Regions from separate parts of the Homo sapiens genome. Here region 1 is linked to region 2. The links come from fine-mapping of genetic effects on gene expression. A gene starts in region 2. The other region holds a variant in brackets. All regions are shown on one strand. Distances are between the middles of the regions.

Region 1 (5,376 bases), 830 kb before region 2:
AAAAGAGAAAAGAAGTATGGTTTTATAACTACCTGCAGGTAGGGCCTGCATGAGGCGGCGGGTGTACTTGAGAGAAGAGAAGAGGAAAGGAGGAGAGGAGAGGGGAGGGGAGGAAAGCAGGGGAGAAGGGCGAAGGGAGGGGGAGGAAGGGGAGGGAGGGGGAGCGGTGGAGCAGCATGGAGGAGGGAATGGTTTTATTACTACCTGCAGGCAGGGCCTGCATGAGGTGGTAATTGTGCTGGGCCCAGGGTATGTGTGGGCTGTGAGCAGATGGTGATGGTGAGGCTGGAAAGAAAGGGGTTGGCTTGGAAACCAGGCCCAGGGGATCCTCAGATCCGCTTCTTGGAATGGGCAGCCTTGAGAAAAGAGTCATGGTAAGCCACAGTCATGCCATCCATCAGATGCAGAAATTCTTGGAAATCTAGCTGCCCATCACTAGTGAGGTCCAGTTTCTTCATCATGTGGTCAAAGACACTGGGGCCCTCTGGTTCTTCATGAAGGCATCCAGTTCTGTATTCATGAAGCTTGGGAACTCCATCTTGGAGTGAGTGCTATTGTAACCATCCTTTCCAGCCTATTTCTGGAAAATAGCAATCAGGGACTCTCTGTAGGGCTGGAGACTTTTGCCATGTTGGAGTTGAATGAGGCACCAAGAGCAGGTTTTTACTGGACCTGTGTGAATAACCATATTGCCATAGGAATATTTACAAATAGTTTTTGAATTCTGGAGGAATTGAGTAGTAAGAAAAAGCAAACATTTCCATCTCAGTTTACAAAAGTATACTTCACAAAATTATTATAAACTATAGATAGTTTAACAGAGAAAATTTTCTCTTTGTTTTCATTTTTTTGAGAAAGGATTGTGCCCCGTTGCACAGGCTGGAGTGCAGTGGTGCAAACACGGCTCCCTGCAACCTCTGGGTCCCAACTCAAGTGATCCTCCCACCTCGGCCTCCCAAGTAGCTGGGATCACAGGCACATGCCACCATGCCCAGCTAATCTTTTTATTTTTGTTTTTGTTTTTTTAGAGACAGGATTTTGCCATGTTGCCCAATCTGGTCTTGAACTCCCGGGCTCAAGCGATCCTCCTGCCTTGGCTTCCAAAGTGAGCCACCACATCCCACCAGAAAATTTTCTTAAATGTGGAAAACAAAACATTTAGGTAAAAAACAAATAAAGTTTTATTTTCTTAATTTCTTTCAGAAACCGGGTCTCCTATATTTCCCAGGTTGGTCTTGAACTCCTGCACTCAAGAGATCCTCCTGTTCCGGCCTCCAAAAGTGCTGGGATCAGAGGTGTGAGCCACTGCACCTAGCCCAAGAATAAATAAAGTTTTAAATAAAGGTCATAAAAACATTATTGGTTATTTAGCCTCATATAATTAATGTTTGTTCTGCTTGATCTTGATAATCAGTTGCATGAACCCATCAGTTTTCATTAGAGTTTTCAAAAATTATTTATTTAGTTCATTGATCTGAAAGTTATTACAAATCTATATTCAACAGTACTTGTTAAAATATTTTTTAAGAATCTGATTCTGGATGCCTTTAGAGAAGAATCAGCACTGTAGATGATAAAGCTTAGAATAGTAGCGATGAAAATCTGACGAAAGTTCAATAATTGACAAGAAAATTCAGTTATTTCTATTATAGAGAGCATTTTAAGATAACAACCAGAATCATGACTAATAGCATCACACCAGGACCATCAGACCTCTGTAAATTTTACATGATCTTCTGAACATTAACGTCAATAACATATCTATGTAAATGTAAACAGCGATTAGTATTTTTTATTATTTGACATTGCTTTTCATATAATCTAACATATCAAATAAGCCTAATGAGAGACACATTCTTTGAGGCTCTCCAGGGGCCTCACTGGTAAATCTCAAAGTCAATTTTAGGTTAAAAAGACTTAAATTAGAGTTTGATTAGTTTGTTCAACAGCAGTAGTTAAATTAAAAAAGAATTGCATTTTGGGGAAGTTTGTCAAAGATGTTAAAAGGCTCAAAACACTTGTGCAAAACAGGATCATGGGTCACTGTGGAAATAATAGTCACTCATTTAACCAGAGTGATAGTCCACAGACTTCAAAAGCAATACAGAAAGTTACACGGACTTAAAAACTTACCCTTTCAAAGCTCAGTTTTCCTAAGCAAGAAGAAACCTAATTAGTAGGCCGGGCGTGTTGGCTCACGCCTGGAATCCCAGCACCTTGGGAGGCCGAGGCGGACAGATCACTTGAGGCCAGGAGTTCAAGACCAGGCTGAGCGACATGGCAAAACCCCTTTTCTACTAAAAGGACAAAATATTAGCTGGGTGTCGTGGCCCACGCCTGTGGTCCCAGCTACAGGAGGCAAAAGAATTGCTTGAACCCGGGAGACAAAGGTTGCAGTGAGCCAAGATCCCGCCCATTGCATTCCAGCCTGGGCGACAGAGAGAGACTCCATCTCAAAACAAAACCCTAGGATCAACAGAAAGGAATGCCTGGGTTAAGATAAAGGATTGTGGAGACCCAAGTTCTTATTTGCAGAGGAAGCCTTCAGGTACTAGGCTTCAGAGAGACTAGGTTGTAACATGTTTCTTATTAGACTGAAAGTCTGTGTTGATGTTGATGCCAGAGAGGTATAATGAGGCATGCCTGACCCCCACTTCCTGTCATGGCCTGAAACCATCTCTCAGGTTAAATTTTAAAAGAGCCCTGGCTGAGGAAGAAGTCCATTCAAATGGTTGTGGGTTGGCGGGGGATAGGATTTTATTTTTGATCTACAAGTTCTGTAAGATAAAAGTGCATACATTTTAAGGAACAAGTCTGCTGCCTGATGTATGGACCACACAAAAAGTTCACCAAACTGTCCAATGCCATAACCGGAGACATTCGAACGACAAATCAGGATGAGAAGTTGACGTTTCCACACTATAGACAGCTTTTCCCAAGACGTCAGAATAAGTCTTCATATCGTAATGAGACTCTTACCCCCTGAATGTCTACATTTTTCACTTGACAGAACCCGACGCCCAAATCCTTTACCTCACCTAGTGGTCCCTTTAGAGTTGGCACTCTGCTTTAATTCAACCCAGTCCTCAAATGCTACTCAAAGACTACAAGAGGTCTCATTCAATTCCCCCATAGCTTTTTGATTTGTTTAGCTGGTGGCCCTTAGGCTTGGGATCTTGGTTCAAAACCATTGTACAAACTAAATTTATTATACTATTGCTAATTATAGCTGGGTGTGGTGGCTCACGCCTGTAATCCCAGCACTTTGGGATGCCAA[A/G]GAGGGGGGATCATTTGAGGTCAGGAGTTCGAGACCAGCCTGGCCAACATGGTGAAACCCTGTCTCTACTGAAAAGACAAAAATAAGTCAGTCATGTTGGTGGGCACCTGTAATCCCAGCTACTGGGGAGGCTGAGGCAGGAGAATCGCTTGAACCCGGGAGATGTAGGTTGCAGTGAGCCGGGATCACGCCACTGCACTTCAGGCTGGGCGACAGAGCAAGAATCCATTGCAATAAAATAAAATAAATAAAATAAAATAAAATAAAATAAAATAAAATAAAATAAAATAAAATAAAGTAAAATAATAAAATAAATAAAATAAAATAAAATAAACAATTGCTAATTATTTTAGAATTATGATCTTTGAGCTCCATACTTGTTGCCTAATATTTGTTAAGCCAGTTCTCCCAAGAAAATAATGTTATCCCAGTGCATCAAGATGATTGCTAATATAGATGGGACTAACAAGATGGAACTTGATGCTGAACTCCAGGCAAACCTGCCTGAAATTTTTTTTCCTTCTGTCCTCTTTGTTGCTCAAATATGGCCCATGTCCCTGATCTAGACTCCCTTACCTTTCCCTTGACATGGGATAAAGACAACCGGCACAGGTCCATCCTGGCATGGAGTGACAATGAAGCCTCACTTTAAGATGGCTGATCGGTGAGGTTTTGAAAGAAAGATGTTGATCAAAAGAGGGAATGTGAAAGCTGATTGTGCGAATGAACCAGCTTCTCCAGGGCCAATGAGACTCATTTCAAAACAATATGTAACATTTTTCTTTCTAATAAAATTTCCAACTTCTGTTTGTTCGTTGGACATAATGAAGACCACCCTAGTCCGTGTATATGCCCTGAATTGCAATTTTGTGATTCCCAAATACAGCATTTGATTTAGGGATTTGTCTCTATAATTTATTTTGACTTTGACACAATTAACCAGTATGATGTGCTTAAAGGTTGCCCCACCCCCTGACAGGGTGAGTATTATACTGAATTTAAAAATTCTTTCTAGGTAGGGCATGGTGGCTCACATCTGTAATCCTAACACTTTGGGAAGCCGAGGTGGGTGGATCACCTAGGGTGAGGAGTTGAAGACCAGCCTGGCTAAAATGGTGAAATCCCATCTCTAAAAAAATACCAAATTAGCTGGGCGTAGTGGCACATGCCTGTAATCCCAGCTACTCAGGAGGCTGAGGCAGGAGAATTGCTTGAACTTAGGAAACAGAGGTTACAGTGAGCCGACATCGCACCATTGCACTCCAGCCTGGGCAACAAGAGCGAAACTCCATCCCGAAAAATAAAAAATCATTCTATTACAATCTTGATAATTGCTTAGCTTTGCATCTTACTATGGACTTGTTGGATATCTAGGTAGCTGCAAACTATGCAGAGAAAGATAGAAACAGCAGTGGAGATAATTAGAAAATTGTAGTGTTCCTATAAAACAATTAACAAAAGGGGGAAATTGTAAGGGTAACTAAACATAAAATTGAATTTTTCCTGTTGCCAAGAGAGAAGAAGAAACCTGTCTCCATTTCACTTTCCTTAGAGCATTTCCTTTAGAAATTTTGTATTTGTAAATTCTTCCTTTGATACGTAAGCCTCTGGCCATCCTAGAACCCAGGAATGTCTTGAACTTGAACTCCAGGCCTCAAGTGATCCTCCAGCCTCAGCCTCCAAAAGTGTTGGGATTACAGGCATGAGCCACCATGCCCGTCCCTTAGGAATGTCTTTCTTCAGGGCCTTGGTGCCATCTCTTTGAAATGTGAACATTGAGGAAGATGATGTCCTTATCTCCCTGTCACCAGGGGAGTTTAGCCTAGGTGCCTCGCTCCAAGCTGTAAGCACCTGGTTGTCATAGAGACATGAGTTTTATTTTTCCTTCAGATAAAGGCAATTAACTAACACAGATGGGTACTCCAATTACTTGGTGAACTTAGGACTTGCCTGGGAGCATTTAGTGTTCACCCTTGGCTGCTGCCGTACAGCCAGGCCAATTACCAACATATCTGGACTTTCTGATTTCTGCTACCACTTTTTATTGTTCGTTTGTTTTGCTTTTGTTTGTTTTTGTTTTGTTTTGTTTTTGAGGCGGA
Region 2 (5,376 bases):
TTTGGGAGGCCAAGGCAGGCGGATCACCTGAGGTCAGGAGTTCGAGACCAGTCTGACCAATATGGAGAAACCCCATCTCTACTAAAAATACAAAATTAGCCTGGTGTGGTGGCACATGCCTGTAATCTCAGCTACTCAGGAGGCTGAGACAGAAGAATCGCTTGAACCCGGGAGGTGGAGGTTGCGGTGAGCCAAGATTGTGCCATTGTACTCCAGCCTGGGCAACAAGAGCAAAACTCCTTCTCAAAAAAAAAAAAAAAAAAAAAAGACAATTTCAGAGAGAAGTGAGAGTCATGAAGCTATGAAGCTAGCAAAAGGAGGTTACATTGTGGGAGATGATGGTGAGCTTCTGGCCTCTTTGAAGACATAACTCTTGAGCTGCAACCTGAATGACCAGAAGCCAGGTATATGAAGCACTGAGTGAAGGGCATTGACAGCAGGGGGAATAGCAAGTGCAAAGGTGTTGAAGTGGAACCAGGTTCATCTTGTTTCAGAAATTCAGACGTGTCCTCACAGAGTTGGAAAGCACATACTCATCACTAGGAAAAGTATGTTTCATCCCTTCCACTATTCACTCACTCTTCCGGCAACCGGGGCTGAAAGAGGGGAGCTCTTTCCTTAGTTTTGAGGGGCCCTGTGTTGGCAGAGAGAGCAGGCAGGCCCTTGGGTTGAATCCTCCTGGCCATCCAGTTATGATTCTCCCCCACTTCAAATGAGATGAGAATAAAAACAACTTCTAGTCTGGAGAGTGTGTCCCTCAGGGTACCTCTGGGATCCTGATTCCAGGAGACGAGATGCATGTCTTAGATGCAGAAATTAAGGCTGAGCTGGGGGAAATTACTTGCTCAAAATAACACACTTAGCCAGGCGCAGTGGCTCACGCCTGTAATCTCAGCACTTTGGGAGGCCAAGGCGGGAGAATTGCTTGAGGTCAGGAGTTCAAGACCAGCCTGAGCAACATAACGAGACCTTGTCTCTACTAAAAAATAAATAAATACAAACAAAGTGTCTACAAATGTCACCCAGCCTTGCACCCCAGGAGCCATCCATTCATCTTGCCAATCCCCCAGAAATAAACTTTCCTATTCCTCATGTACGATTGTGCTGACTGGCCCCTCTCTTCAGAACCAGGAAACTGAGGCCCAACATTTAGGGCCAGGACTTCCTTGGGATTGCAGAACACAGAATCAGACCTTGGGCTCTCTGGGCTCTAACACTACTACAAAATATGTTTTTTTAAAATAGAGACAAGCTCTCACTACGTTGCCCAGGCTGGTCTCGAACTCTTGAGCTGAAGTGATTCTCCTACCTCGGCCTCCCAAAGTGCTAGGATTACAGGCATGAGCCACTGCTCCTGGCCTTGGGCTCTAACACTTGAAACAATGCTTGCCCTATTTCTGAGCAACTCAATGCTCACCAACCCCTATTCTCACACAGCCTTTACACTGGCAGGGTCTTATTCTCATCACTGCTCAGAGGTTTATTCCACTGTCCACAATCCATTATCCAAAAACAAAAAGCTCTGGAAACTGATGGTTTTCCCACAAGATAGGCACTATTTGGTTACAAAACCTGACCTGATCTAACGAGGAACAATTTTCTTTCTTCCTTTCTTTTTGTTTTTCCTTTTTTGGAGACAGGGTCTTGCTCTGTTGCCCAGGCAGGAGTGCAGTGGTCTGATCATGGTTCACTGCAGCCTTGAACTCCCAGGCTCAAGCAATCCTCCCACCTCAGCCTCCCGAGTAGTTGGGATTACAGGCACGTGCCACCATGCCTGGGCTAATTTTTTTCTTTTTTCTTTTTTTTTTTTTTTTTTGAGACGGAGTCTTGCTCTGTCGCCCAGGCTGGAGTGCAGTGGCGCAATCTTGGCTCACTACAACCTCCACCTCCCAGGTTCAAGCGATTCTCCTGCCTCAGCCTCCTGACTAGCTGGGATTATAGGCGAGCGCCACCACACCCGGTTCATTTTTTGTGTATTTTTAGTAGAGACGGGGTTTCACCATGTTGGACAGGCTGGTCTCGAACTCCTGACCTCGTGATCTGCCCACCTCGGCCTCCCAAACTGCTGGGATTATAGGCTTGAGCCACCGCGTCCGGCCGCCTGGGCTAATTTTTAAAATTATTTGTAGAGATGAGGTCTCACTGTGTTGCCGAGGTTGATCTCCAACTCTTGGGCTCAAGCGATCCTCCCACCTGAGGCTCCCAGAGTGTTGGGATTACTGGCATGAGCCACTGCGCCCAGCCGAGGAACACTTTTCAATCCTTACCCAGTTATTGTGAACGTTCATACCTTTTCTTGAAGAAATACCGTTTTTGTTGTTGTTGTTGTTTTTGAGACGTAGTTTCGCTCTTGTTGCCCAGACTGGAGTGCAATGGCATGATCTTGGCTCACCGCAACCTCTGCCTCCCGGGTTCAAGCGATTCTCCTGCCTCAGCCTTCCGAGTAGCTGGGATTACAGGCATGCGTCACCGTGCCCAGCTAATTTTTGTATTTTTAGTAGAGACGGTGTTTCTCCATGTTGGTCAGGCTGGTCTCGAACTCCCGACCTCAGGTGATCCACCCGCCTCGGCCTCCCAGTGTTGGGATTACAGGCGTGAGCCACCGCGCCTGGCCCTTTTTTTTTTTTTTTGTAACGCGGCAGCTCCAAACCCCGCTGAGAGTATATGCATGGGAAAACTTTCTGAAATCAAAAATATTCCGAATTCTGGCAACATACTGGGCCCCAAGTCTTTCGGATTTAACTCTGCCTCGGCCGTTTTATTCAGTTAAGGAAACTGAGTCACTCCATCCCAAAGCCAGATTCCCGCGGTTCTAAGCTGAAGCTGTCTCGGGTGCATTTGCATTCCAAAAAGGCGAAGGGTCCCGCTATTACTGCTCCTGGTACCTGGAGCTGCCAAGCACCCCTGCGATGGGGCGCCCCGGGGGCTGTGCGCCAGGCTGGGAGTATCCTTGGGGGGCGGGGCGAGGGGGCTTCCGGGGCGGCAGCCACCTGGCCCGGCTCCGGCCCCGCCCGCGTCAGCTCTGCGCGGTGATTCACTCCCTCCTTCGCCCCGGGGCCCCCTTCCCGGCCAGACGGCGGGCAAGACAGCTGGGTGTACAGCGTCCTCGAAACCACGAGCAAGTGAGCAGATCCTCCGAGGCACCAGGGACTCCAGCCCATGCCATGGCGGATTCTGAGCGCCTCTCGGCTCCTGGCTGCTGGGCCGCCTGCACCAACTTCTCGCGCACTCGAAAGGGAATCCTCCTGTTTGCTGAGATTGTGAGCGTTCTGGGGCAGGCGCGTGGGCAAAAGCGGGATGGGGTGGCTGGACCATGCGGAACTGGATGGTCCGGGTGAGGCAGGCACTTGGCCGGGGCGCTCGGCAGTGGGGTGCAGGTGGGTGGGTTCACGGTGGAGGCCCGAAACCCGGGGCGCAGGGCGAGTCGGTGGGGTTTGACGAAGGTTGTTGAGATCTGGTGGTCCCCGGGGTGAAGCAAGGAGCCTATAACGCATACGGAGGGCTACGTGGGGACAGCCTGCGTGAACTCATCAGTGGACGCATCGAAGGGGTCCCAGGGTGCTGGGAAGTGGGGGCCTCCTGTGGCAGGGCGTGGCGCGGCCTGGGCACAGGAGGGCGGGCTGGCAGCGCGCCCAGGGGCAGGGCCTGTTGGGGTGGGGCCCCCCCGCCCCGCGCTAGTCCCGCGGTGTAGAGCGCCCCGCCCTTCGCCAGTTCTTCCTCGCCCTTCAGAGGCCGGGCGGGATGTCCTTAGCTTTTCGGGGTTTCCACCCTTCTCAAAGTGGGCGCCGCCTTTGAGTCACTTGTAAAAGGGGTGCGGCGCCTTTAACGGAGTCCTGCCTCTCTGGTGTCACTCTCACCGCTTCCCAAAGGGGTTGCTGGGGGAACCGCGTGTTCCGCCCCGGTCAAGGCCACAAAGCTGGCGTCAGCGGGGCTCACAAAACACCTGGCAGCGCCACTCCCCTCAGGCTGCCCGTAACCTAGAAGGGAAAAGAGGAAACTGAGGCACCCAACTCTACTCCTTACTTGTTGGGTGACCCTGGCCAAGCCATTAAACCTCTCTGTGCCTCAGTTTTCTCGTCTATAAATTAGAAAGAGTAATAATAGTACCCAGAGCATTAGATTGTCGTGATGATTGAATTTGGAACACAGTGAGCACATAAAAAGTGTTTAGCTATTATTGTATGTCATTTCCCCAGCCCTCGTAGGCATCTTAGTATGGGACCCCCAATTTAAACCAATCTTCTCAGCCCTGGTTGCTGATTGAGGTCCCCTTTCCCATGTCACCCTTCCAGATATTATGCCTGGTGATCCTGATCTGCTTCAGTGCCTCCACACCAGGCTACTCCTCCCTGTCGGTGATTGAGATGATCCTTGCTGCTATTTTCTTTGTTGTCTACATGTGTGACCTGCACACCAAGATACCATTCATCAACTGGCCCTGGAGTGTGAGAAGGGGTCCACAATGGCAAGACCAGGGAGGGGTCTGGGCAGTTAGGATTGTCGGGGAACTGTGGTTGCTGACTTCCCTCTTCTCCTCCCTACACCTCACAGGATTTCTTCCGAACCCTCATAGCGGCAATCCTCTACCTGATCACCTCCATTGTTGTCCTTGTTGAGAGAGGAAACCACTCCAAAATCGTCGCAGGGGTAAAGGCCATGGGAGCAGCTCTGAAGCACAGAGCGAAGGGTTTGAGGAGCCAGGGACCATTTCTGCCTTTGCTTCTGGCAGAAATCGTGTGACCCACAGCAAGTCACACTTGTCCTCAGACATGGAGGAAAGTCTGGCCCAGGACTTGGTTTTGCCTCCCAAGGTCTTCATTTGCTGTGAAGGGAAGTCCCTTGTCAGACACAAGGACCTTGGTGAGAGGTACAAACAGGCGGCCCCTTTGTCAATGCACTAGACTACCATCTGCAAGAACTTTGTCCCAAATGTAGTAGAAATTGGGGCCGGGCGCAGTGGCTCATGCCTGTATTCCCAGCACTTTGGGAGGCTGAGGCCGAGGCAGGCAGATCACTTGAGGTCAGGAGTTCAAGACCAGCCTGGCCAACATGGCGAAACCCCATCTCCACTAAAAATACAAAAATCAGCCGGGCATGGTGGTGGGCGCCTATAGTCCCAGCTACTCAGGAGGCTGAGGCAGGAGAATCACTTGAACCCAGAAGACAAAGGTTGCAGTGAGCCAAGATCATGCCACTCACTCCAGCCCCAGTGACAGATGGGTGACAGAGTGATACTGTGTCTCAAAAAAAAAAAAAGTATGACTTGAATTGTGCCCCCTACGGGTAGGGCCACAGTGTGGCCTCCCTGTGTTGAGAGGTATAGGAGGAGGGAGAGTGGGGTAGGATGCACTCTCTTGGCCTTTCCCTGGCTTACCA

Evidence for each region. PIP is the estimated chance that this variant, and not a neighbour inherited with it, causes the effect.
Region 1: its variant is the best candidate, but not a certain one, in a credible set for the expression of PLP2 in cerebellar hemisphere (GTEx, PIP 0.80).

Annotation. Positions count from the first base shown.
Region 1 is chrX:48,336,568-48,341,943 of GRCh38, forward strand. It overlaps the pseudogene S100A11P9. Among named protein-coding and RNA genes, the nearest start is that of SSX3, 17 kb to the right of the region's middle. The variant A/G (reference allele first, on the strand shown) is at 3,278.
Region 2 is chrX:49,168,837-49,174,212 of GRCh38, forward strand. It overlaps PLP2 (proteolipid protein 2), which reads left to right and starts at 3,062. Exons shown (of 5, transcript NM_002668.3): 1 at 3,062-3,260; 2 at 4,293-4,445; 3 at 4,552-4,647. The coding sequence starts at 3,165. RefSeq lists silencers at 2,939-3,038, 3,559-3,758.